Homo sapiens: one gene and its partners. The protein of the gene in region 1 purifies or fractionates together with the protein of each later gene. This does not show direct contact. Each region holds a gene or a part of one and is shown in the gene's direction. Other genes may lie near its edges. The genes, in order: USB1, DHX35, CDC40 and ISY1.

What was found.
Region 2: the proteins of USB1 (region 1) and DHX35 purify together in Homo sapiens (affinity purification with mass spectrometry; 3 studies listed by BioGRID and IntAct, with this or other methods). This does not show direct contact.
Region 3: the proteins of USB1 (region 1) and CDC40 purify together in Homo sapiens (affinity purification with mass spectrometry; 3 studies listed by BioGRID and IntAct, with this or other methods). This does not show direct contact.
Region 4: the proteins of USB1 (region 1) and ISY1 purify together in Homo sapiens (affinity purification with mass spectrometry, with the first as the bait; 3 studies listed by BioGRID). This does not show direct contact.

What each region holds. Positions count from the first base shown.
Region 1 is NC_000016.10:57,997,367-58,004,406, forward strand, and holds the start of USB1 (U6 snRNA phosphodiesterase 1), read left to right. Parts: upstream 1-4,040; 5' UTR 4,041-4,117; coding exon 4,118-4,215; intron 4,216-5,112; coding exon 5,113-5,279; intron 5,280-7,040. Other genes in the region: ZNF319 (zinc finger protein 319), read right to left, coding at 1-899. UniProt on the Homo sapiens protein: 3'-5' RNA exonuclease that trims the 3' end of oligo(U) and oligo(A) tracts of the pre-U6 small nuclear RNA (snRNA) molecule, leading to the formation of a mature U6 snRNA 3' end-terminated with a 2',3'-cyclic phosphate.
Region 2 is NC_000020.11:39,000,336-39,007,361, forward strand, and holds part of DHX35 (probable ATP-dependent RNA helicase DHX35), read left to right. Parts: intron 1-1,394; coding exon 1,395-1,507; intron 1,508-2,436; coding exon 2,437-2,533; intron 2,534-3,413; coding exon 3,414-3,572; intron 3,573-5,810; coding exon 5,811-6,021; intron 6,022-7,026. UniProt on the Homo sapiens protein: May be involved in pre-mRNA splicing.
Region 3 is NC_000006.12:110,204,409-110,211,434, forward strand, and holds part of CDC40 (pre-mRNA-processing factor 17), read left to right. Parts: intron 1-3,097; coding exon 3,098-3,181; intron 3,182-4,675; coding exon 4,676-4,815; intron 4,816-6,298; coding exon 6,299-6,395; intron 6,396-7,026. UniProt on the Homo sapiens protein: Required for pre-mRNA splicing as component of the activated spliceosome. Plays an important role in embryonic brain development; this function does not require proline isomerization.
Region 4 is NC_000003.12:129,137,039-129,144,064, reverse strand, and holds part of ISY1 (pre-mRNA-splicing factor ISY1 homolog), read left to right. Parts: intron 1-3,579; coding exon 3,580-3,697; intron 3,698-6,868; coding exon of another isoform or gene 6,869-6,934; intron 6,935-7,026. Other genes in the region: ISY1-RAB43 protein, read left to right, coding at 3,580-3,697. UniProt on the Homo sapiens protein: Component of the spliceosome C complex required for the selective processing of microRNAs during embryonic stem cell differentiation. Required for the biogenesis of all miRNAs from the pri-miR-17-92 primary transcript except miR-92a.

The sequences.
Region 1 (7,040 bases):
GACGACTCCTTGAAATGCAACTCGCACACGTTGCAGCGGAACAGGTGGTGCTCGCCCGAGTGCGCGTACATGTGGCGCACCAGGTGAGAGCGGTGCTTGAAGGTCTTCTCGCAGACTGCGCACTTGTAGGGCCGCTCGGAGCTGTGCGTGCGCTTGTGGTGCACCAGGTGCGACGACTGGCTGAAGCTTTTGTCACACAGCGTGCACTTGTAGGGCTTCTCACCGGTGTGGATCCGCTCATGCCGAGAGAGCTCCGACAGGTGCTTGAAGGGCTTTTGGCAGATGGGGCAGCTGTAGGGCTTGTCGGCCTGTTCAGCAGGGGTGACAGTGGAAGGCGCGGGTGCTGCGGGAAGCGACGGGGCGGCTGTGGTGGCTGGCTCCGCTGCCTCAGCTGGCTTGTAGGTCTTTTCACAGATGGAACACTTCACCAGGCCACTGTGGGAGCTGTGGTGCTGTGCCAGTGAGGTGAGTAGTGAGAAGCCCATCTTGCAGACCCCACAGACGAAGGGCTTCTGCTCAGCCTGCACGCACTGGTGCTCCAGCAGGTCAGTGGCCTGGTGGAAGATCTTGAGACACTGTGTGCACTGGAATGAGCGGTCATGGCCCGCCAGACACTGGTGCTCATGCGGACTGGACAGGTGCGCCAGGTCGTGACCACACACGCCACATTTGGGGCCTGGCTCTCCTGCTGCCTGCAGGGGTGCGTGTTGTGGGGGCTGCAGGCCGGGGTCTGGCTGCAGGAGGATGCCATAGACGGCACAGCCCAGGGGGTTCTCCGCCGTGCCCGGAGGCAGCGTGTGCTCTGCCAGGGCTGGCGGTGGCTCTGCATGGTGCTGAGGCTGCGGTGGCTGTGGCTGCTGCGGCTGCGTCTGTGGCGGCTGTTGCCAGCTTTCCGACATGCTTGGGAAGATGAAACAGGGTTTGGAGAGTAATGGCTTCAGTTTCCCGCTTCACGTGACCCAATCCAGAGAGAGAAGCTGCCCAATCACAGAGATGGACAAGGACCTCAGACAAGGCACAGAAGAGGGGCTGGTCAGACAGCCCGAGTCAGTAACCAAGCGGACAGACTACAAGGCTCTGCCTACAGGACATGGGGGCTCTTCAAGGGAGGGTCCCAGCAGTGCCGGGGAGACTCTGCCTTCCCCAGTGATCCGTTCTGTAGAGAAGAGAGAAAGTATGAGCTCGAGGAAGGAACAAGCAGCAGTTTCCTGGGCCTTCTCCCTGTCCTGCCCGCACTCACCACACCATCACAAACCACACATCGGGGAAGGCAGAGGTGCTCAGGGCTGCAGGACTCCTCCCTTCTTAGGCAATCAGAGAGGTCTGCAGCCAGCTCAGCTCCTCCAGGCAGAGGAAATGGCAGCGGCCTCCACCCCCACCCACCTCAGTGCCCCGCCCCTGGGCCAGGACATCCCAGCCTCCACAAGTCCCCTCCAGCTTCCTGCCAACCCTTTAGCTGAGACTCACAGGTGAGAGTCCGGGGTTATCTGCCTACAATACAGAATCCTCCTTAAGGCCCGCAGCTCCTCTCCTGTTGCTACCCTGAGTCTTAATACGGGCCACACCACTTAGAGCTAAGGAGGCCAGACCTCCCAGGTCTGAGAGCCCAGTGGCAAATGGCCTCTGACAGTCAATATTTAGGACAACTACGTGGAACCAAGGACCATTTCAAAAACTCTCACCTATGAGGGACTGACCACACCCCTTCAACTATCCCTGACCACAGGCCCATTCTCTCTCCGCGTGACAGGATGGGTGGCCCTACAGGAACCAGAGCCCATAGGTGATGGGGGCTAGATGAGAGGGCCACAGAACCACCCAGGCTTGATGTCCACACAGCAGAACTTCCTCACTCTGGTTCTCTCCCAGAACTCACACACACACACACACACACACACACACACACAAAGTCCTAAATCCTCTGAATCTCATAGTGTCAAGGCCTGCAGGAAAATGTAAGAAACTGCCCTGGTCTGCCTTGGCAATGCAGGATGCAGCATGCTAACCACAGAGCATTTCTCATCACCTCTCTAGAGACAACTCCATTCCCTTACTCCAAGCCTATAAAGTTCTGGGTAATTGTTGGAAGGTAAAGCCCACCCAGCCCAGGCAAATCTCTAACTCACCACTTTGTGGCAGCATGAGGTAATGCCAGCGAGAGGGAGGAACTTTCAGAGTCAGATGCAACCCACTTCCAGGTTCCCAGCTCATCTGCCTCTTACATTTAAAAGTTTGTAAGTTTTCTCCTGAGCAGAGGAAGAAGGAAGGAGAAGCCTTCACAGGACAGTCTGGCCTCTAACTGCTCTGCCAAAGAAATGTAAGAGTCAGGCTAAAAGCTGTCATCCTCAGCATCTTCCGGAAGGGAGGGAGGAGAGGAGCGGCTGCTCTGGGTGGAGGCAGCAGGTTGCTTGAGCAAGCAGGTACCACTCTAAGCCTTCTCGGGACAGAGAGGGGGAAGGTGGGCTTCTCTGAGCGCCTGTAGGTCCGCTGTGCCAACCCACTGTTTTGTTTGCTTTTTCTGGCATGAATGGCTGTCAGACAGTGTCCCCTGGCTTGGTCTGCAGCACCCCCTGCCCACCCTGGCCCTCCTGCAGCAAGGTGCAGCCAGGAAGCCTCTGTGATCACTCCGCAAAGGGGAGAGAGGAGGCAAGGAGAGGCAGGGGAGGCCCCCCACCTGCGCCCCACCCCGTCTCTTCTTCCTCCCTGAGAAACCGAATGAAAGCCGATCACCTCCCGCCGGCCCTGCCTGCAGGCCCAGCTGGGCTGCGTCCTGTCAGCCCTCGTCCGGGATGGCCCGGCCGCTGCGACCCGAGGGCGAGCCCCGAGGGCGGCCGGGCTGGAGAAAGGCCCCAGGGCTACAGGCCGGGCCCAGGAAGCGGCTGCGCCTCGAGGCCCGGCCTGGGCCGCCCAGAAGCTCAAGAGGCCGCTAGGTCGCGGCGGAGGGGCGCGGGGGGGCGGCCGGGCCGGCAGAGGAAGGGGTGCGGCGGGCGCGGGGGTGGCCCCCAGATGCGGCCCCGGGCGCCCCGCCGCTCACCTGCTCCAGGCCGCCTGCAGGGCAGGCGCGGGGCGAGCGGCGACCAGCTGCTCTCTCGGCCGCCCCTTTATTCCGGCTCCATCCGCGGCGGCGCGGCCTACGCGCGCTGCCAATCCCCGGCCTCGCGTAGCGGCTGCGGCCGGACCGGGGGCGGGGGACGGGCTAGCGGCGGCCGGAACGGAGGAAGCGACGCGCGCTGCCGGAGTAGCGGGGCCGGGGCGAGGAGCGCCGGGAGGGCGGGCGGACGGACCGATGGCCTTGCGGAGACGGGCGGACGGGCGGGCGGCGCGGGGGCCAGGGAGGCGGGGCCGGGGGAGGAGCGGCATCCCGGGCGGCGGCGGCCAATGCGGGAGGAGCGGGCGGCGCGGAGCGAGGCCGCCCCCTGCCGGGGACCCCGTGGCCGGGCCAGGTCGGACAAGCCGGGTGCTCCGGGCGGTTTTCGAGTCGCCAGGCCTGGGCGCCTCGACTAACCGAGGAAGGGCGCTCTGCTTCCGGCCACCCCGCTCGGGCTTAGGGGAGGGGGCTCCGGGTGACCGCCCTCGGCCCGGCTCTGCGCAGGAGAGGAGGGGCCTCCTAGAGGCTCTGGTCTGCCACAATTGATCCGCCCCTAACTGCTCAGCTTGGCTTTTAGGGGCTTGGACTTTGGGCTGGTTTGAGGAGGGGGCTCCAGGACCTCTGATCCTGGCCGGGCTCGGGGCAGGCAGGGGTCTCCGCTGGGTCTAGTGCGCTGACCCGGGACTGTCGTGTCTGGTATGTCTGGTCCCGGGTGGCTGCAGACAGCAGCGGGCAGAAAGGTGAGGGCCCTGAGCGATATATGAAATGGGTACACGAAGGCTGGGGAGGTCCCAGCGGGGTGCCGGGAGGCTGCAGGTGACCAGATCCGCGTGCGCAGCCGGCAGACAGCTTGGAGTCGGTGGGCTGAATCTTCACCACTGTCCTGCCGGGTTCCGCCCCTCCCGGCTCCGCCCCGAGGCGGTGCCAGCCCAGGCCCCGCCCCTGGGAGGGCGCTTCCGGCACAGCGGAACTCCGGGTGCCGGTTGAGGTTGCTGGTGGACCTGCTCTGGTGGTCTTGGATGAGGCCCCATGAGCGCGGCGCCCCTGGTGGGCTACAGCAGCAGCGGCTCCGAGGATGAGTCCGAGGACGGGATGCGGACCAGGCCGGGGGATGGGAGCCACCGTCGGTGAGGAGTGAGGAAGTCTCTCCGGAGGGCGCGCGCATTCACCCTAGAGCCAGACGGGACCCGAATGTCTGGGGGTGGAGTGGGGAGGGAGGATGCGGGGCGGCTCTGGGAAGGAAAAGGGGACGCAGGAAGAAAGGAGGATCCAGAAGATATACCCCTCCCCCCCACCCCAGACAAAGCTCCAGAGTGGCCCCACCTGGCTAGGGCCAAGTTGGGAGGCCAGACCTGGGTTCGGGTCCAGCCTCGCGCTGGCCCACTCTATCGCCTGGCACACATCCCTGTACCATCCTAGGTCCGTTTCCTGATTTGAATACAATTGCGATAGTAATACTTGCTAAAGCGTAGGGAGAGCCTTTTCATTCATCCAGTAAATATTCACTGAGCACCCACTCCCTGCCAGGCTGGGGTCTGGTAATTCAGTGGTGAACAAAACCGTCGGCCTTACTTCCTGGGGCTTAGATTCTTAAATGCTAGGCCTTATCTTTGCTGAGTGCTTTACAAGCAGTAGCTCAGTTGATCCCACAATTGCTCTATCAGGTAGACATATACTTTCAGATGAGGCATTTGAGGCCCAGAAAGGGGACATGACTTGCCCAAGGTCATAGAGCTAGAAAGTGCTACTCCAGCTGCAGCCTGTCCAGCTTGGAAATGTGACCCCTGAACCACATTGTTGCATGCCCTGTTGTTTCCCATGGGGACCTTGTGCCCCAGAGTTGGAGACCCCAATGAGACAATACTGGAGAAACAATTTCGCTATCTAGAAGCTGCTTCCAGCACCAGGCTGGAAACACACACTCAGAGCCACCATATATAAGGGGTTACAACTTTTGTGGTATATACAAAGGTAGAGAATGCTAACAGGATAAATGTACTCATTTTTCTTTTTTTCTTTTGCAGTGGCCAGAGCCCCCTTCCCAGGCAGAGATTTCCAGTACCTGACAGTGTGCTGAACATGTTCCCGGGCACCGAGGAGGGGCCTGAAGATGACAGCACAAAACACGGGGGACGGGTGCGCACCTTCCCCCACGAGCGAGGCAACTGGGCCACCCACGTCTATGTACCATGTGAGTGATGTGTGAAAGGCAAGTTGCCAAGACCCATAGACCCGTAGGTGCCTCATGAAGGGCAGAATCTGGCCCCAACTAGAAGGAAGAAACCAGAAACCTCTAACACTGGTGGTGGGAAAGTCATTGACTTAGCAGAGAAAGAGCAGGTTTCAAGAACTGGGGATTTTTCTGTCATCTTGGTTTTGAATTCGTAGCCTAAAATGTGTATTACCTCTGGGTATAATATTCTCCCTGTTCACGAGGAGGTGACCAAAGGAGAATCTGGAGCAGGGTGTCAAGGTCATGCCAGGCACTTTATTTCTGAGAGGGCCCTGGGTACGCTGGGTGTGCAAGGTTCAAATCCCACCCTAGCTCTGATCAGCAGGTGGAAGACAAAAAATGCCCAGGCTTCAGAGTCAGACCTCACTCCGCTGCCCACTACTCTGGGTGCCCTTTATAAGATACTAGACTTCTCAGAGCTTCAGTTTCTTCAAATCTAAAATGGGGGTAGCACTGGCTAGGCCAGGTGGCTCACACCTATAGTCCCAGCACTTTGGGAAGCGGAGGCAGGCAGATCACTTGAGCCCAGGTGTTTGAGACCAGCCTCGGCAACAGGTAGAAACCCTGTTTCTACCAAAAATACAAAAAAATTAGCCAGGTGTGGTGGCACACGCCTATGGTTCCCACTACTTGAGAGGCTGAGGTAGGCGGATTGACTGACCCTGGGAGGTAGAGACTGTGGTGTGCCAAGATCGCTCCACTGCACTCCAGCCTGGGTGACAGAGTGAGACTCCATCTCAAATAAGACAGTTTGGTGGCTTCTTACAAAACTAAACATACTCTTATCATAAAATCCAGCAATTACATTCCTTGGTTTTTGCCCAAAGGAGTTGCATTTGGTATTGACAGTGTTCTGGAGTTTAGCCATTCTAATAGGTGTGTAGCAATATGTCACTGTTGTCTGTTAATTTGCATTTCCCTGATGACATATGATCCAGATCATCTTTTCAATGCTTTTTGCCATCTGTGTATCTTCCTCAGTGAGGTGTCTGTTAAGGTCTTTTGCCCACTTTTTAATCATTTTTGTTTATTAATATTAATCATTTTTGTTTATTAATAAATTTTAATCATTTTTGTTTATTTAATATTATGATGTGGGTCTAATATTGGATCTTAAAATATTGAGTTTTAAGAGTTCTTTATATTTGAAATAATAGTCCTTTATCAGATACGTCTTTTGCAAATACATTTTTTTCCCAGCCAGTCGCTTGTCTTTTCATTCTCTTGACGTTGTCCTTCACAGAGCAGAAGTTTTTAAGTTTAATGAAGTCCAGCTTATCAATTATTTCTTTCATGGATCTTGCCTTTGGTGTCATATCTAAAAAGTTGTCACCAAACCCAAGATCATCTACATTTTTCTCCTATGTTATCTTTCAGGAATCTTACAGTTTTGCATTTTACATTTAGTTCTGTGTCCATTTTGAGTTAATTTTTGTGAAAGGTGGAAGGTCTGTGTCTAGATTCCTTTTCTTATATATGGATATCCAGTTATTCCAGCACCATTGGTTGAAAAGACTCTCTTTTTCACATTGTATTGCTTTTGCTCCTTTGCCAAAGATCGGTTGACTGTATTGATGTGGGTCTATTTCTGGGTTCTCAATTCTGTTCCATTCATCTATTTGTTCACCAATACCATTGGTGAACTGTTTTGATTGCTGTAACTTTACATAGTTAAGTCTCGAAGTTGGGTAGTTTCAGTCCTCCAACTTTGTTCTTCTC
Region 2 (7,026 bases), on another chromosome or scaffold:
CTGTGAACTGTTTACTCTTTTGGGGCATGGGGTGTCTGTTCCCACTTGTTTGTATGTCACTTCTAGTGTACCTGTGCTGTGCATGTCATAGGGATGCAGGAAGGCTGAAGCAACTTGAAGGGAATTTACCCAAAAGAAAGTGAACAGGAGTACTGTGTGGAATTCTGCATAGCAAAACATAGTTTTGTTGACATGAGGCACTTTGATGTCTGTGCTTATTCTTCTCAATTTTGAGGTTAATATATAACATCCCTGTATTTTGTGGTTAAATCCAGTTTACTCTTTTAAAAGTACCCCTCAGAGCCCCTTCACTTAGCGTTTGATGCCATTCGTTAGCACAGCTCCTGGGCTCCTGGGTTTCCTGGAGCAGGATGGGCATGTTTTGTAAAGGTACATAGGGAAATAAAGACAAGCTTTGTAGTTATGTAGCCAGGCCTCAGGGAAATGAGTAGAGGTGGGGAATGGAAAGGGCACCCAGATTCAAATAATGGAGCACTCCACCCGACGGGATATCCATGCCCCCTCTGCAGTGGGCACCAGCTGCTTCCCATCTGGTGCTCACTTGCCTGCCTGCATGGTCACTTAGCTCTTCTCAGTCTCAGCTTCTCTTTGTACCTTAGGGTCACATTCCCCAAGAGAGGATCTTTGGTGGCGTTTCCTTCCCCCATCATTGGCTGGAGCCCTCAAGACAGGTCTCCTTGTGGGCTGCAAGTGGTGGTCAAGTACCATTAAATAGGATGTGGACACCTGTTTGGCAGAAACTGCCAAGAGACACTTCTCCCAACAGGGTACTGCACGAGTGTTGGGGAAGTACATGATTGATGGCCTACCCCATACAAAGCCTCGCACTCACTACTGTAGGGCGTGTAAAGATGGAGAAGACACTATCCCTGCCATCAAGTGGCCTAAAACCAGTAACAATGGGGCCGGAAACACACCTACTGTTCACAGAAGGAAAAGTTTCCTATCAAATGATCATATCTGTGTTTTCCAGATAGAGTTACCCACCAACCTCATCTAACCTGTACTGAACTTGAGTCACACCTTTGACCTAATTTTTGCTTAAATGAAATACAGAGGATAGGAATAATATAAATAATACTAAAGCTACATGTTAACTCAGATGCTATGCTGAATGCAGTTTTGAAATCTAACCTTTATTATTTTTATTAAAACTTTAGTAAAGACACTGTCATTGAAATGTGATTCCCCACAATTACAGTTAGAAAAATGTGAATTTAAAAAATGTATTTTGCAACCCATAATCTGTATTGCACATATATAATCTTGCTACTCACCTGTCTTTGGCAAGTTTTATATTATTTTTTCTTTCCATGAATCGCTACGAACCTTTTTTTCTAAGAGAAATGAAGAATTAATTTTTTTCTTTTTAGAAATTCCGGGATTTCTTTAATCAAAATGAAACCAGTGATCCAGCAAGGGATACATGTGTGATCCTTACAGTGGAAGGGAGAACATTTCCGGTGGATATCTTTTATCTACAAAGGTTTGATGATGCTTGAATTCTGGATGATGGTGTTTAGAAAACTCAGCCTCTGATGTAGAATGTCAGAACTGCATTTGCTCACAACTCTAAAGGATGGGGAGGAGCATGTTTTGTGTCCCTAGTCATTGGTCTAGAATGTTCTTACCCTGCTCCGGATCACTGCTGAATTTAGTTTAAACTGTTCACACTGACATGCAAGTTTCCGTAAGTCTGTGGCCAGTAGCTCAGCCAGAGAGAGCAAAAGTGGTGAAAGGTTTTGGGGAGGGAAGCTTGATAGTTTTCAGAACTGGGGTTTACAAGGCTGCCTGTCAGCAGGGGCAGTATTGGTGATTTGAATCATTTGGCTCTCAGTTCTCTACATCCCTAGCGAGAAGGCCCAGTTGGCATTTTTAGGAGTAGCCTACTTGGACAAGGAAGGGGCCATCCTAATTCCTGTACTAGTCACTGGACAAAAAAAGACCAGGAGCCTGTTCCAGTGGCTGATAAATCCAGAGTCGTGGACTTGATTTCTGAATCGTTTTGTTGGAGAGCTCATCCATCAGGGCCATCCAGCCGACCCATAGATGCTGCTATTGGTTAGGAGGGAAAATGGGCTGGGAAGAGCGTGGGCTTCAGCACTGGGACCACAGCTTCCGATTTTCACTGGTCTGATGTCTTTGCATACTAAAGATAGCACATCTATTTGTATGGGTATATCATGTTATTTCTTTCCAAATAAAGCTAAAAATCATAGTTGACATATAATTATGGATTATTCTTGAATATTAGATTTGAAAAAAATGAATATTTATTTTGTTTATCCTGTACTAATTACCTACTGGGCAGGCCCAAACTCACTTTGATGAGCTTTGCTGCCAGATTATTAGGGTAATTGATCTGTAATTAATGAGCATATTCTAGTGATGAATTCATCCCATTTGTCTTTTCAGTCCTGTTCCAGATTATATCAAATCAACTGTCGAAACTGTGGTGAAAATTCACCAGACAGAGGGAGACGGAGACGTTTTAGCATTTCTTACTGGCCAGGTAATGCCACTGTACTTCTCTGATGAATAGACATGTTAAGACAGCACCAAAAGTAATACAGAGCCTTGTTACTTTACTCAGTCATGTATTTCATGTTTTGTTGTATTTTGTGGTTCCATAATTGTGTAGAAAATTGATTTGATGTCATTCATCTACCATCTAGATTGTCAGGGACTCGTTAGCCCCTGCCTGTTCTGTCTGCAGAGGGTTAAATGTTTTTTTAAATGTATTAGCTGATTCCAAAATAAACTAGGTAGTTGAGTGAGGGCTATTTTGTTTGCCAGAATTGGATACTACATTAGGTCCATGTCCTGCACACATGTTGCTGCTGTGTACCTCTTTTTCCAGTGACACCTTTACAGCTCATCCTGGAGGTGATAAGTGGCCATATTACTGGTAAAACAACTGAACAGACCCAAGTGCTCGCTGACGGTGGCCAGCACTATTCAGACCTGCCCTCCAACTGTAATCTTTTCCACTGCCAAACACTTTCCATGGTTCAGTAATCTTTTTTGGAGAAAGCTTACAGTGATTTTATATGCTGCAACTTGTCTATATGCATGAGATGCTTGTTTGACACCGTATATGTATGCTGAGTAAAATAGTCATCGTTTTTATTTATTGGGAACTCTTCCATTCATTGCAGATCATACCGAGTTTTTAGTAACTAATAGTGTAGTTGCAAAATTTCACCCATTGTCATCATTGTGTATTAGCATTTAATTAAATACCATCCCAGAGTGGAACATGACGGCACTGAAATTCTTGAATCTGACCAAAATTAAAGTCCAGATCCCAACTTTTATTTTCTTTCAGTATGATAAAATAGCATGCTTTAAATTGATCTCGGTTTCTTTGGTTCCTGGTTCAACGTCTTTAGGAAGAGGTAGAAACTGTTGTGTCGATGCTCATCGAGCAGGCTCGAGCACTAGCTCGCACTGGGATGAAGAGACACCTCCGAGTTCTCCCCATGTATGCAGGACTGCCTTCCTTTGAGCAAATGAAAGTGTTTGAAAGGGTGTCACGCAGTGTCAGAAAGGTGAGACTATCCTGATGACCAAGGGTGTTGGCAGCCGTCTATAATCATAATGATGCTCCTTTACTTGTTTTGAAACTTGCTAAACACAAGGCAGACTTCTAGGTCCATATTTCTGTGTAGTAGATCTAAAAGCACACAATAAATAATACATTGTGAAGATTTCTTTTTTTTTTGAGATGGAGTCTCGCTCTGTTGCCCAGGCTGGAGTGCAGTGGCGCGATCTCAGCTCACTGCAAGCTCTGCCTCCCGGGTTCACGCCATTCTCCTGCCTCAGCCTCCTGAGTAGCTGGGACTACAGGCGCCCGCCACCACACCCGGCTAATTTTTTTTTGTATTTTTAGTAGAGACGGGGTTTCACTAAGTTAGCCAGGATGGTCTCGATCTCCTGACCTTGTGATCCGCCCACCTTGGCCTCCCAAAGTGCTGGGATTACAGGCGTCAGCCACCGTGCCCGGCCTGTTGTGAAGATTCTAAACCTGTCCCACTGAAGGATCACTTTGACAGTAGTTATCAGATCAGGTGACTTCTCTTTTCTTCTCTTCTGCCTTCCTAATATTTCCCACGACACATGCTTACTTTGGCTTAAGGGATTGTTTAGGGGGATTGAGGTCAGTCAGGAGCAATAGAAAAATTGGTACACATGGTTTCTAAATAATTTGTTTTAAGTATCAGCTTGCCTATTTTAAAGGGCCAAGTTTAAATCAATTAATTCAAGGTGTGGCTTAAAAATGTTTAGCCTTGAAGTGAGAGTGAGGAAGGGTGTGGTGGAAAGCATTGGTTTGAAGGAGCTGGCAGGCAGCCAGTCCACCTGGGCCTGACTCTGCCTTTTCCTTTCATTAGATGAGGACTGCACAGAACCAGCCCGAGGACAGCTTTTACTGTAGTAGCTATTTATCAACAGATGGCAGAGAATAGAGCAGGTGAGGGATGGTCTGAGGATCCACTCCCAATTTCAGACCACCTGGAAGAGGGTGCTCAGCCCCTTGACCATTGGGATGGAGCAACATGAGTCTGCCCTGTCAAACATTAATTGCAGCCAGCCAATCAGGAGACCTGGATTCTGCCCCTGAGCTACTATGTGCCTTGGGACAACTGACTTAACCTCGAATCTGAGTTTTTGCAGCTGTAAAACGTAAATAATAATAACTTTCAGATAGGTGGTTTTATAGCATAACATCTTAATCCCAACTACATAAAAATATTAGAAAGATTATTTTATAAAATGATCATTTATAAAATAATTTTTATAAAATGATTTATAAAATGTAAAGTGCCTGAAAAAAGTTCTAACTGCTATATATATGTGTCCCCTGCTACTTAAACCCTTCAGGGGCAGCTCCCAATGTACTGGGAATAAAATTCAAATACCTCATGGTGGCCCAGAGACCACATATGATTGCATATCTGCCTCCCTCTGCAACCTCATCTTGTACTTTGTATTTTGGCTGCACTGGCTGTTTCTCCTTCCTTTGAACTGTTTCTTATTCTTGGATCTCTATAGGGTTGGCTGCTGCTTGTTACTCAGGTCTCTGCTCAAAATCTTTCACAGAGGCTCTGCCTGGCCAACAAAAGTAAAGTAGCATGCCCTATTATTACAATAATATATAATATACATGTTATATACTACATCATATCATATTGCCTCATTGTGTTAATATTTTCTTTATAGTATTTGTTGTTCTCTGAAATTATCTTCTTGTTTATGTTCAGCATGTCTTCACCCTAAACACTCAAACTAGAATGTAAACTCTGGCAGAGCAGGGGCCTTGTCTGTCTTGTTTATCCTACATCCCAGCACCTTGAACAGTGCTTGGCAAAGTGCACACCCTCAGAAAGTAATCATGATATGAATGAATAAATGACTATACCTGCGCAAGATGGAGGGTGATTTACTTTGGTTATGCCAAAGGGAAAAACTAACAAATGCTAGGCTCTGATCACTTTATATATTAATTGTATATAGTCCCTTCAGTAGCCCTAGGGGAGGTGGTAAATCTTATTATGTAGATGAGGAAACAGGTTCAGGAGGTTGAGTAACTTGTCCAGGGTCACATGATTAGGGAGAATTCAAACCCAGGGCACCCCCTGACTTGGAAACTCACAGTCTTTCTAGTATATTAAACTGCCTCTCACAGATTCTGCAATGTTGGAAATGTTAAATCTTTTAGGATTTTTACGAGTTTGTTAAAAGCAAAAAGAATAAAATGAGTTTTATTCTTCTTTCTGTGGGGAACGTAGGTGATAGTGGCCACCAATGTGGCAGAAACCTCTATCACAATCAGCGGCATTGTGTATGTGATCGACTGTGGCTTTGTGAAACTCCGAGCCTACAATCCCAGGACAGCTATTGAATGCTTGGTGGTGGTGCCAGTCTCCCAGGCATCAGCTAATCAGCGAGCAGGACGTGGTGGTCGTAGTCGCTCGGGAAAATGTTATCGCCTTTATACAGGTTAGTGTGGCTTTCCCTAAGGGTTTTTGACTTTCTTATAGTCAGCCTGGGCAACAGAGTGTAGCAAATGTTTACTCCTAATGGTAGAACTTAACATAAAATACAGGCCTTCCTCACAAGGCCCTGTGTAATCAGATCCCCACTGCTTTCCTCACTCTAAATATGGTGTTTCTTTGTTACTAGTCCCCATTGGCCAAAGCTGGCCTGTGAGTGACTGCTTATTTGCTATCCTGTTCTAACCTAACATCTGGGCACAGGCCTGTGTAGCCATTTGTCCCTAGGGTGTGGGCTGTGTGTCCTGGAGCCTGTCTTTCTTGCCTTTCTTTCTTGACTTAATGTGCTGTTTTTGTATTCCAAGATCCCTGAGTCTTGCGGAGCCTCACATTGGGTTCCCCTTTTACTTCTGGTTCAGAGCATCTTTGCCAAGTGAAAATGGAAGGTCTGTCCGGAGACTCATTCATAGAAAACAAATAGTTGGTGAGCTCCTCCTCTGTGCTGTGCATCATGCTAGGCTCTGAGGGAACAGAAGGCAATTTTAATACTGTCTCAGCCTTTCTGGAGCTTTCTATCCAGCTTGAAGACAGCCTTACCTATAGACAGTGATGGACCCAGAGCTGCTCTTTCTCTGCACTTCTCTTCTGTGGGGAATGCTGCTGACATTTTCCCCAGTTGTCCAGACTCAATTTCCAAGTCATTGTTAATTCTCTTCTTTATCCAGTATCCATCTGCATTCACTTAACCAGGCCCAGGGTTTTTTATTTTGTTTTGTTTCTTCTGGTGTGGCTGCCCCTAAAGAAGGTCCAGGGGTTTTAGCTCTGCCATTTGTCTCTTCTTTTCCTTTCTGGTTATTATTGTCCTTGTTCAGTCTTTGATGTTGATCTTTCTTTTAGCAGATGTTTGCAGAGCACCTGCTGTATGCTGGCCACGGTGCTAGAGCTTGGAGATCTGGGGCTAGTAACCATGGTCTGTGGCCACAGTGACTGACAGTCTGGTGGTGGAGGTAGA
Region 3 (7,026 bases), on another chromosome or scaffold:
CCAGTTTTCACTATTAAAAATGTGATGTATGTTATGCTACAAAGTGCATTTTAAAACATGGTAGTGAATATTTTTGTACATAAAACTTTACATGTTCTTATATTATTTTATACTATTTTCTTAAATGAGTTCCCAAACGTAGGTAAAAGAATATGTGTTTTAAAAGCTTTTGGTATATATTATCAAATTGCTTTCCAAAAGAATTCTCTCAACCTACTCTACCACCACAGTGTATAAAAGTCCTATTTCTCTTTTTTTTTTTTTTTTTTTTTGAGACAGGATCTCGCTCTGTCACTCAGGCCGTGCAGTTGTGGGATCTCTGCTCACTGCAACCTCTACCTCTGGGGTTCAGGCAATTCTCATGCCTCAGCCTCCTGAGTAGCTGGAATTACAGGCATGAACGACCACACATAGCTAATGTTTTTTTTTGTATTTTTCGTAGAGATGGGGTTTTACCATATTGGCCAGACTTGTCTCAAAACTCCTGGCCTCAAGTAATCTGCCTTCCTTGGCCTCCCAAAGTGCTGGGATTACAGGCCTGAGCCACGATGCCCGGCCCTATTTCTCTTCATCAAAGATCCATATGATTGTTTTTCCTTTGTTTACTTGATAATCAAAGTATTATATTTCTTTATTGCAACTTGATTTTTCCGGACTACTAGTGAGGTCGAAGGTTTTTTCATATATTTATGACCATTCTTTTGCAAATTGTTTATAGTCTCTTTTCATTTGCCTAATGGAATTAGTTTTAATAATTATTATTAGTTTAATAATCTTAAGGGTATAATAATAAAATCAATATTATGGCCATTTCAAATAAGACTGCCGAAGGGAAGAAAGTAGACATTAATTCCATTAAAAAGATAAAAGGGAAAACAAGCTTCAGGAAGATAGATAAGAATATTTAAGAAATGTAGAAATATTCACTTATTTGAGACACAAGATAGTGAGAAAACAAATTGGACTGAAATTTAGTAGTGTTAGAATTAGATCTTGTTCTATCACTGGCTGATTTGTAGTAAGACATAAGGCCAAATATTTAACTCTTATTTGTAAAAGGAAAATAATACTGTTTTCTAATCACCTGGGGTGGAAGGCAGTAGTGGGGATGGTGGTATGGCAGTAAAGATTTTTACCACAGAGGATGTGGAGCAAGAGGAAAGCATAACTTATTTTTCTGAGTAACAAGACAGTGGCCAGATGAGTTGGGGAATGGTGCTTACACAGAGACAAGGACCAGGGATACCTCTTCCCTCTCTGTCTACTCCTTCACCCTTCCAGACGCGTCATGAAATGCTATTTATGTAGACGTTAAGTCTCCTTTCAAAGTAGAAATTTACATTCTAGCTAGATACGTTTTTTATTATTGAAATGGAAACTTTTAACATGGTATGAGCTTATAAAAGTCTCATTTTTTGGAAAAAGTTATGTGCAGAACACTTCTGTACATCAAAGAGATTAAAGACAAAATAACTCATGGGATTTGAACCTGTGATTTCAGAGATTCTACTCCAAAGGCTGATTTTCTGCCACCAAGCTCTCTCCTCTGGTTAAGAACATATTTTAATGCTGAAAAAAACTATATGCAAATCAGCTAATAGCCAGGTGGTTGGTTCTGTTATAGCATATCATGAGGGTGAGTTCAGCACTTACATCCTTAGCTTGTTTGAAAAGCATGCTTCATGATGAATCTTTTTCTGTTCCCCAAAAGAAGTTCCCTATATTCTGTTTTTTTGTGTGTGTGTGTGAGATGGAGTCTCGCTCTGTCGCCCAGGCTGGAGTGCAGTGGCGCGATCTCAGCTCACTGCAAGCTACACCTCCCCGGTTCACACCATTCTCCTGCCTCAGCCTCCCGAGTAGCTGGGACTACTTTGGATGAAAAATGAAAATAATAAGTCTATCCTCTAGGATGTGCCCTTTAGAAAAAATGGGCTTAGTACTTTTTTATGTATTCTATTATCGTACACATGAGTTGTAGGCCATAAAGTGATCAGTGATTTAGCACTCTTGTGAATATACCAGACTAATGTTACCAAACATTTACTGTGCTAGCACACCCATTTGAGAAAAAAACTGATTTGAGCTAACTTAGGTAGACTTTCTTTCCTTAAATTCCCATGGACCACTGAAGACCACATTTATATGTAGCTACATACTTTATAATTAGTTTAAAAAGCACATTCGTATGCTGGTAGATATCCTTCCTTCTCTTAAGGAAATATAAAGAATGATTGATGAAATAGAAATATATTAAGATTGGGAAGGAAGACTGTCCTTACTGCAAATGGTATTTTCAAAATAATAGCTAGATTTTATGTAATCTTCTTACCCTTTTTTATTTAATAATTTACATAATTTGATAAACTTAGCCCTGCAATATCTATTACCAAGAAGAAAAGGAAAATGGTTTCTAGATTTCCAAGTGCATCATGTACATGTATTTTCAAGCTCTTAGAATATTTAAAACTAAAGTTTGATGTGTTGGCCAGAGAGGCTCTTAGTAATGTAATGTCAGTATGCAAAATTCATCCTATAAGAAACATATTATGCTGGAGTCTAGCCTGAGCTTTGGGTTCTAAATAGAAAAATATAGCTTTGGGTTCTAAATAGAAATATAGCTCAGGGGCCGGGAGTGGTGGCTCACACCTGTAATGCCAGCACTTTGGGAGGCCAAGGCGGTGGATCATTTAAGGTCAGGAGTTCAAGATCAGCTTGGCCAACATGGTGAAACCCCATCTCTCCAAAAAAATACAAAAGTTAGCTAGGGGTAATGACGCATGCCTGTAATCCCAGCTACTCTGGAGGCTGAGGCAGGAGAATTGCTTGAGCCTGGAAGGCGGAGGTTGCAGTGAGCCGAGATTACACCACTGCACTCCAGCCTGGGTGACAGGGTGAGACCCTATCTCAAAAAAAAAAAAAAAAAAAAAAAGGAAGCAATATAGCTCAGGGCAGAATGATTGGTCCTGATTGGTCCTGAGTTAGAGATCATTTTTGACATCTGGGAAAGAAAATGTGAAATGTGTATATTTGTATTATAATAATAAAATGAATTTAAACAGCAAAATGGAGTTAATAATTTTCACTTTTTTGCTTTCAGGTTATGCATTAGACCCTTCATTAGATAATCATCAAGTGTCTGCTAAATATATTGGTTCTGTAGAAGAAGCTGAAAAAAATCAAGGTAATTTATTTGAAACATTTGATATCATATATACCTACACATCTATAATTAGTGTCTTGCAGAGTGACTTTAATTAGACAGTAAAAAATAGTATTTAGCGCTTTTTTTTTTAAAGTTGAAACAATGGAGCGATACAGTTTAGAGCAATATAGTTCAGAAATGTTACAGTTTAGAGCTTGCTTTTGCCGCTTACTAGTTGTGGAATCTTGTAGGGAAAATAATGATACATATCTCTTTGAGTTACTTTGAGTACTTGGCACCATGCCAACCCTGTAGAAATCACTCAATAAATTACAACTAATGTATAGATAATTTTGGCAATTGATTTCTCAACATTAATGTCAAGCTTCATTTTAACAGAGTAGAAATACTTTATTTGGTAAGTCTGTGAAGATTGTCTTTGAAGAGTTGCTTTGAAGGTTGAGTTTGAATATGTGTTGTATGTATGCTTGTATTCATATTCATTTTGTACTTACAATAAGACAAAACATCATACGCTAAACGCTAACTTGTCACAAGCCTCATCAGTCCATTAGAATATTATCCATAAAATGCAATTTAAAAAGTAATTTGCTGGTTGGTTGCATGGGACATTTGTGCTTAGTAGCTATAGATCCTATGTGATCTGGCTGGTCTCTGTATATGAGCTAGATTATTGTTAAAATAGAATTTTAACAGGCTTTTGCTATAAAACATAGCCTGAATTAATATAGGTAGACATTTCTTCTTTAAGCTAGACCTCTGCAAGTCCCATCTAAAGGTAGCTAGATTCTTAGTTAACTTGTGACTATGATTCCACAAACCTTTCTTTTTCCAAGTTAATGACTATACACAGTATGCCACCTCCTACTAATCAAATCAAAATCTCAACCAGAAACACCCTCCTTCTCCTTTTCTTTTACTGTTAACGTTAATGATATTAGAGGTCAAGATGAGACTGAAATCACTTGGAAGGAATACCATTTCTGGTGAAACCTTGTTTGATTTACATTTTTGCATTACAAGTGAAGTGAAGATAAGTTATTAAGTACTTACAGTAATTTAGTTTAATTTAGTTTTAAAATGATAAATTACAGTTTATTCTTGCTTCCAAATGTCACTTTATTATTACTTAGCAATAATGAGTTTCTGAGTTTTTTCCAGAAAGTCGTACAAATCCACTGACACAGCTTTTTGATTCAATAAAAGGCTTGTGCGCCATTGTAGGAGTACATATTTGGGTCTCTTCTTTAAGTATACAGTATTAGAATTTGCAGAATATTGAATTAGTTTTAAGTGTCTTTGCCCAGAAGGTTGAATCCCTTTTTCTGTAGCATGAGTCAGCGTATATGGTAGATTCATGTAGATTGTTTTTTAATAACTCTGGGGTCACTTGAACAATCATCTTTCTTTAACCATATAAAATAAAATTAAACATATGTTCATATTTCTTTAGAAAATGTACATCTTTGTAATCTCTCAGTTTTTTTTTTAATTTTTTTTTTGTTAACGTAGGTTTAACTGTATTTGAAACTGGTCAGAAGAAAACAGAAAAGAGGAAAAAGTTTAAAGAAAATGATGCATCCAATATTGATGGTTTTTTGGGACCATGGGCAAAATATGTGGATGAAAAAGATGTAGCCAAACCTTCAGAAGTAAGCTTTGATGTTTTTAATTGTCAATTCAGGTATACGCTGTATCTCTATGAAGGATATCTACATTAATAAACTTGAGATTTCTTTAGAGAACCAAATGACTCATCAAAATTTTTCTGCCTTTAGTTGATTGAAAATATACAATAAAATTTATTTGTTTTTCTTTGGGATATTTTTATTTACCTTTTCTGCTGATTTGTTTTCTCTCATGCTTTTTTATTAAAATACAATATTGAACAATTTTCATAAAGATTTCCTTGATATTGCTATTAAGCTGCCATGGTAGCTACTCTTCTGATACTAGACATTCAGATAGTAACTACAAAATCAGCCTTCTGTGACACTAGAATTGATTATAAATTTTATTGATTTATGAATTTATTTAAAATTTTCAACAAATTTTATCTCTATATATATCTTAAAAACTACTATAAAGTTTGTAAAGTAAATGCTCTGCCGTTCCCTTCCTCACCTCCTAATCTCACTGTCTCCATGAGCCAGAGAGTGTTCTAGGTCCCAGGCATACAGCAGTGGACAAGATCAAGAAAATCATGACCTCATGAAGCTTATATTCTAGCTGTTACTTACATCCAGTAAATCCATGTTTATAGTAATAGAAATAAACAGGTGATATCTAAGATGAATAAACTTATTCTACTATTTTTTATTTTAGATTTTATCTGTTGACTTGTTATTATAGATAGAGATTTACTACTACCCCATCTTCTGTCCCCAGCTCCTCCCAAAAAAATTGTGTCACAAATGTATAGCTATCACTTATATCCTTAGGAGTATGTAAAAACAATTAACTGAAAAACAACATTATGTGCTAAAATTCAGTTTCCATTCTGAAACTAGATTTTCTGATTGCCTTGTCTTTTTACTTGTATAACTAGTATAACATGTTAAAATTTATTTCTAGGTGTCACAGAAGGATAAGTTTTGAAAACTGATTTTATATAGTTGAAAAGTATTATCTAGTATCCATTATGTATTTAGTACCATTTCATAATTTGTGGAAGAGGTAATCAGTCTCTGCTTATAGAAGACTTGAGCTTGGCCGGGCCTGTAAGCCCAGCACTTTGGGAGGCCGAGGCGGGCGCATTGCCAGAGCTCAGGAGTTCGAGACCAGCCTGGGCAACACAGTAAAACCCTGTCTCTACTAAAACAGAAAAAATTAGCCAGGCGTGGTAGTGTGCACCGAGTAGTCCCAGCTACTCGGGAGGCTGAGGCAGGAGAATTGCTTGAACTAGGAAGAGGGAGGTTGCAGTGAGCAGAGATTCGCGCCACTGCACTCCAGCCTGGGCGACAGTGCGAGACTCATCTCAGAAAAAAAAAAAAAAAAAAAAAGTGTTGAGCTTGTTATCCTGGGAACATACTCGGACCAGATATGTAGAAGTCATTATAAAGAATTTATAACCAACTTTAGGTATAATGAGGTTCTAGAACATTCATTTTAAATTTCACTCCTTAATTTTCTTAGGAAGAGCAAAAAGAATTGGATGAAATCACAGCAAAGAGGCAGAAAAAAGGAAAACAGGAAGAAGAGAAACCTGGGGAGGAGAAGACAATCTTACATGGTAACATATTTTTTGTACATCTTCATTTTTATGAAAAACCTTCATATTTACTCTGTTCGCTGTTCATACAATATCAATTACCCTTACTATCAGCTGTAATAAAATCATTATGTTAAGTATAATTGTGTTGGACAATTTGTATCCCAAGGAAATTACAGCAGACTTCTGTATACTGATAAAGGAGAAAAAATAGCATGATTAATGATAGCCACAGATAATTTTTTTCCAAGTGTGAATGAATTTTATTAAATGGTAGATAAAAAGAAACTTGAATAGTCCACAATCTATTCTTTCGTAAGATAAAGTTGACTCTTTTGGTGTATTAATAGTGCCCCAGTCATTTTAAATGTTTTTAATGAAGCCAAATACTCAGGTATCCTCACAGTTCATAATCGTTATTCAGCTATATTCAGAATAAACTTGGATTTTCGTGTGAAAAGATGGAGCTTAAGGCTCTCATACTTATTTTGACTTGTAGAAGGAAATGCATATTCACCAAAACAAATCGTAAGTATTCTAGAATGTACCTGTTAATAATTAGTTATATTTAGGAAAATACATAGTGATTATCTAAAACTGTAAAGAATAGCTTAGCATTTACAGTGTTGCTTATTCTAATGTTATATTACAT
Region 4 (7,026 bases), on another chromosome or scaffold:
TGAAAAAATTCGTATGTGAAATGTTAAGTTCCACCACCCAAATTCAACACTATTAATATTTTTATATATTTTTTCCAGAGATTTTTAATGCTTAATAATTTTATTTTTATTTTCTACATATAAAAGTAATATATTACCACTAAGTTCAGAAAAGTACAAAGAAGCAGAACAACACTCAGTCACAATCCCATTACATAAGTGCAGCCACTTGAATATGCTCTTTATCTTTTTTCTCCTTCCGTTGTTTTTGTATGAATGTCATAATTGAAACCATACTCACTGTATGTACAATTTTGGTTCTGGATTTTGTTTTTCTTTTCAAAATGGTAGCTTTCATTATATAAACAGTACATATTTTTGTGCAGAGAAAAAATATAAATATAAAAATTATAAGATATAAAAAATACATATTAGTATATACATTATAGAAATTCATTAATATTCTATGTGCTTTATTCTCTAAACTGTACAAGGAATACAGTTTCGTGTCAATAAATAATCATATGATAGATATGTATATTGTTTTATTTTATTCTAGTTTAGTTTTTTTTTTTTTTTTGAGACAGAGTCTCGCTTCATCACCCAGGCTGGAGTGCAGTGGTGCGATCTTGGCTCACTGCAACCTCTGCCTCCTGGGTTCAAGCAATTCTTGTGCCCCAGCCTCCAGAGCAGCTGAGATTATAGGTGTGCGCCACCACACCTGGCTAATTTTTATATTTTAGTAGAGTTGGGGTTTGACCATGTTGGCCAGGCTGGTCTCGAACTCCTGACCTCTGGTGATCTGTCCGCCTTGGTCTCCCAAACTGCTGGAATTACAGATGTGAGCCACTGCACCCAGCCTCTTAGTTTTTGTGACAAGATTTTACTCTGTCACCCCAGGCTGGAGTGCAGTGGCACGATCATGGCTCACTGCAGCCTTGACTCCAGGTGCAAGTAATCCTTTTACCTCAGCCTCCTGAGCAGCTGAGATGACAGGTGTGTGCCACCATGCTCAGCTAATTTTTGTTTTTGCGACGGAGTCTCGCTCTGTCACCCAGGCTGGAGTGCAGGAGTGTGATTTCGACTCACTGCAACCTCCCCCTCCTGGGTTCAAGCGATTCTCATGCCTCAGCCTCCAGAGTAGCTGGGATTACAGGTGCCCACCACCACGCCCAGCTAATTTTTGTATTTTTAGTAGAGACAGGGTTTCACCATGTTGGCCAGGCTGGTCTCGAACTCCCTACCTCAGGTGATCCACCTGCCTTGGCTCCCCAAAGTGCTGGGATTATAGGTGTGAGCTACCGTGCCTGGCCATGCCCAGCTAATTTTTAAATTTTTTGTAGAAATGGTGTCCCATTATGTTGCCCAGGCTGGTCTTGAGCTCCTGGAGTCAATCAGTCATCCTGCCTCAGCCTCCCAAAGTACTGGGATTACAGGCATGAGCCGCTGTGCTCAGCCAAATTGTATGATTTAAAAAAATGTTTTTTAACTCAAAGAGCATTGCAAAAATATACAGAGAACTTTTATATACCCTTTATACAGATTTACCAGTATTTAACATTTTGCTTGTATTTGCTTTATTTTCTTTGTGTACCTTGAGATTTATTTTTTGTGAACCACTTGAAAGGTAGGTTACAATACATCATGCTTCTTTACCCTTTAATATATGTGTATTTCCTAAGAAGAATATTCTCTTATGTAACCATGGTAGAGCTATCAAGTTTAAGAAATTTAACTTGGCTACAATAATTGAATCCATGTGGCATTTCATCAGTTTTCCCAATAATGTCCTTGGTAGCATTTCCCCTGCAGTACAGGACCTGATCTGGGGTCACATACTACATGTAGTTGTCAAATCGTCTTTTTTTTTTTTTTTTTCGAGACAGAGTCTCGCTCTGTCGTCCAGGCTGGAGTGCAGTGGCGTGCGATCTCAGCTCACCCTAACCTCCGCCTCCCAGGTTCAAGTGATTCTTGTGCTCCAGCCTCCCAAGTAGCTGGAATTACAGATGTGCACCACCGTACCCTGCTAATTTTTGTATTTTTAGTAGAGATGGGATTTTACCATGTTGGCCAGGCTGGTCTTGAACTCCTGACCTCAGGTGATCTTCCCGCCTTGGTCTCACAAAGTGCTGGGATTACAGATGTGAGCCACCGCACCCAGCAAATCATCAGTTTTAATAGATATAGTTGTATCTTCTGGATATATTTCATTTGTTTTCCACTAATTGTCATATAGGTTGTTTGTAATCTTTTTAAAGGTTTTGTCACTTAGCATCGTGTTTTTTATCTTTATTTATTTATTTATTTTTTAATTATTTTATTTTATTTTTTTGAGACGGAGTCTTGCTCTGTCACCCAGGCTGGAGTGCAGTGGTGTGATATCAGCTCACTGCAAGCTCCGCCTCCCAGGTTCATGCCGTTCTCCTGCCTTAGCCTCCTGAGTAGCTGGGACTACAGGCGCCCACCACCATGCCTAGCTAATTTTTTGTATTTATAGTAGAGACGGGGTTTCACCATGTTAGCCAGGATGGTCTCGGTCTCCTGACCTCGTGATCCGCCCACCTCGGCCTCCCAAAGTGCTGAGATTACAGGCGTGAGCCACTGCGCCCGGCCTAGTTTTATTTATTTTTTTTGAGACAGGGTCTTGCTCTGTCACCCAGGCTGGAATGCAGTGGCACGATAGGTGTGTGTCACCATGCCTGGCTGATTTTTGCATTTTTTTGTAGAGACAGGGTTTTGCCATGTTGCCCATGCTGGTCGTGAACTCCTGGCCTCAAGTGATCTTCCCACCTTGGTGTCCCAGAGTGCTGGGATTACAGGTGTGAGCCACCGTGCCCAGCCCATAAGTGTTTTTTATTTATTTATTTATTTATTTATTTATTTATTTATTTAATTTACTCCAGCCCTGGCTGGAGTACAGTGGCACGATCTTGGCTCGCTGCAATCTCCACCTCCCAGGTTCAAGCAATTCTTCCTGCCCCAGTCTCCTGAGTAGCTGGGATTACAGGCATGTCTCACCACACCCAGCTAATTTTTGTATATTTAGTAGAGACAGGGTTTTGCCATGTTGCCCAGGCTGGTCTTGAACTCCTAAGCTGAAGTGATCGCCTACCTTGGCCTCCCAAAGTGCTAGGATTACAGGTGTGAGCCACTGCATCCAGCTATTATCTTAAAATATATTTGCAAACATGGAAATAGTGGGTTTAAAGATCAGATCTGCCAGGCGCAGTGGCTCACGCCTGTAATCCCAGCACTTTGGGAGGCCGAGGTGGGTGGATCATGAGGTCAGGAGTTCAAGACCATCCTGACCAACATGGTGAAACCCCGTCTCTACTAAAAATACAAAAATTAGCCAGGCGTGGTGGCACGCACCTGTAATCCCAGCTACTCAGGAGGCTGAGGCAGGAGAATCACTTGAACCCAGGAGGTGGAGGTTGCAGTGAGATTGTGCTACTGCACTCCAGCCTGGGCAACAGAGCGAGACTCCACCTCAAATAAATAAATGGGCAACAGAGCGAGACTCCGCCTCAAATAAATAAATAAATAATAACTAACTAACTAACTAACAGATCCATTTTCTCTTTTTTTCTTCCCAATAAGAAAGTTGGCCCTAAAATGCTGGATCATGAAGGAAAAGAAGTCCCAGGAAACCGAGGTTACAAGTACTTTGGAGCAGCAAAAGATTTGCCTGGTGTTAGAGAGCTGTTTGAAAAAGAACGTAAGTAAGTTTGTGACAGTTTTAGCCTTTCATTGGTAATAATCATAAGAGTAGATATGCTATATGCTAACTGCTCTTACTTTTTTTTCTTAGTTGCATAACAGCCTTATAGTGTAGGAATTATTGTTCCCAGATTTTAACTGAGAATTCTTAAGAACTGGGATAGAATCATAGGCCCATGCCATACAATTGGGGCTGGAAAGTGTGCCCAGGATTGGCTGGTGCAGGATTCTGCCTTTGGCAGGTGCTAATCTGTCAGTCTGGACAAGGAGTTTCCCTATTTGAAGTTTCCCAGAACGATTGGGGCAGGCTCTGAAGTTCATTGAATCAGGTCATGTTTCAGTTACTTATTAGTTGAACAAATGATAACCAAAGAACAAATACAATCTTGGGCCAAACCCTAAATGTAAAAATGGAGAAAAGTGAGGCCCAGCACTGTGGCTCATGCCTGTAATCCCAGCACTTTGGGAGGCTGAGGTGGGCGGATCACCTGAGGTAGGGAGTTAGAGACCAGCTTGACCAACATGGAGAAACCCCGTCTCCACTAAACATACAAAATTAGCTGGGCATGGTGGTGCATGCCTGTACTCCCAGCTACTCAGGAGACTGAGACAGGAGAATTGCTTGAATCTGAGGGGTGGAGGTTGCGGTGAGCCGAGATCGTGCCATTGCACTCCAGCCTGGACAGCAAGAGCGAAACTCCATCTCAAAAAAAAAAAAGGAGAAAAGTGGAGCTACTTTTGTGTGAATCCAAATAGGGCACACCCACCTTTCCTCCTTCTTTCAGCCAAACCTCCTGAATATAATTTGAAACTGTTAGTCTGGAGTTTTAGTCGGTTTTGATTTTGTGTTTTAGAAAGGTAGTCAACACTTCATAGGAAAAAGTATGAGAGGCAGAGAAGAATGATGCCAGTATTTTCACCATTATTAGCATTTTGTTATATCTCCTTCTAGTTGGCTTTTCTATTTTAAAAAAAATATAGTTCTATTTTTATTAAATGCTGCTTATTTTAAAATTCATTATTCCACAGCTAGTTTTGCATAGGCCACTACCATCCCTTAAAAATAATTCAGAGTTTAAATATTGTGCCATTAATTATGAAGGAATATATTTTTTACTACAGAGGAGTTATAGCCAGGCGCAGTGGCTCATGCCTGTAATCCCAGCACTTTGGGAGCCTGAGGCGGGAGAATCACAAGGTCAGGAGTTCGAGACCAGCCTGGCCAACATGGTGAAACCCTGTCTCTACTAAAAATACAAAAAAAATTAGCTGGGCATATGGCAGGCACCTGTAATCCCAGCTACTCAGGAGGCTGAGGCAGGAGAATCACTTGAACCTGGGAGGCAGAGGTTGCAGTGAGCCGAGATCGTCCCACTGCGCTCCAGCCTGGGCAGCAGAGCAGGACTCCATCTCAAACAAAAAAAAGTTATAAAATACAGAAAATCAGAAAAAAACCACTCACATTTTCACACCTCATATGTGATGATTGTTAATACATTAGGGCATTGTTCCCTCCAGTTTCTTTCTTTCTTTCTTTCTTTTTTTTTTTTTGAGATGGAGTCTTGCTCTGTTGCGCAGGCTGGAGTGTAGTTGTGCAATCTCGGCTCACTGCAACCTCTGCCTCCCGGGTTCAAGTAATTCTCCTGCCTCAGCCTCCCAAGTAGCTGGGACTACAGGCGCATGCCACCATGCCCAGCTAATTTGTATCTTTTTTTTGTTTTTGAGATGGAGTCTCGCTCTGTCACCAAGGCTGGAGTACAGTGGCCCAATCTTGGCTCACTGCAAGCTCCACCTCCTGGGTTCACACCATTCTCCTGCCTCAGCCTCCTGAGTAGCTGGGACTACAGGCATCTGCCACCATGCCCAGCTAATTTTATTTTTTTTTTGTATTTTTAGTAGAGACGGGGTTTCACCGTGTTAGCCAGGATGGTCTCGATCTCCTGACCTCGTGATCCACCTGCCTCAGCTTCCCAAAGTGCTGGGATTACAGGCGTGAGCCACCGTGACCAGTACTAATTTGTATTTTTAGTAGAGACAGGGTTTCACTGTGTTGGTGCCAGGGTGGTCTCGAGCTCTTTTTTTTTTGAGATGGAGTTTTGCTCTGTTGCCCAGGCTGGAGTACAGTGACGCAATCTCGGCTTACTGCTGCAAGCTCTGCCTCCCAGGTTCACGCCATTCTCCTGCCTCAGGCTCCTGAGTAGCTGGTACTATAGGCGCCCGCCACCATGCCCGGCAAAGTTTTTGTGTTTTTTTAGTAGAGACGGGGTTTCACCATGTTAACCAGGATGGTCTCAATCTCCTGACCTTGTGATCCGCCCGCCTTGGTCTCCCAAAATGCTGGGATTACAGGCGTGAGCCACTGTGCCCAGTACTAATTTGTATTTTTAGTGGAGACAGGGTTTCCCTATGTTGGCCAGGGTGGTCTCGAGTTTTTTTTTTTTTTTTTTTTTTGACATGGAGTCTTGCTGTGTTGCCCAGGCTGGAGTGCAGTGATGCGATCTCGGCACACTGCTGTAAGCTCTGCCTCCCGGGTTTACGCCATTCTCCTGCCTCAGCCTCCCGAGTAGCTGGGACTATAGGTGACCGCCACCACGCCCGGCAAAGTTTTTGTATTTTTTTAGTAGAGACGGGGTTTCACCGTGTTAGCCAGGATGGTCTCTATCTCCTGACCTCGTGATCCGCCCGCCTCGGCCTCCCAAAGTGCTGGGATAACATCCCACTGCTCCCGGCCGGTCTCAAACGCTTGATGTCATGATCTGCCCACCTCGGCCTCCCAAAGCGCTAGGATTACAGGAGTGAGCCACCTCGCCTGGCTGTTCCTTCCAGTTTCTAAAGGGTTGTGTTGGGGTGGCTCCTATATTGTGATTATGCTCTATATGTTAGGTTTTTTGCATTTACATTTTTCTAAATATATTTTTGCTTATTCCAGTGATAGAGTTTTGGGTTTTTAAATTTATTTTTCCTTTTTTGTCATCTATTGAAAAGATTTTTGTTTTAGAAAGAAAATGCATAAGTGAATTTTACTGGTTATAATTCAAATAGCACAGATAGAGTTAAAGTCCTCTTACCTCTACACTCATCCCAGTGCCCCTCCTAGAGGTAACTGATAACCATTATTATCTGTTTGGTATGTTCCTTTCCGGCCTTAAAAATTTTTTTATTTTTTTAGGCCAGGTGCGGTGGCTCATGCCTGTAATCCCAGCACTTTGGGAGGCTGAGGCGGGCGGATCACAAGGTCAGGAGATCAAGACCATCCTGGCTAACATGGTGAAACCCCGTCTCTGCTAAAAAAAAATACAAAAAATTAGCTGGGCATGGTGGCGGGCA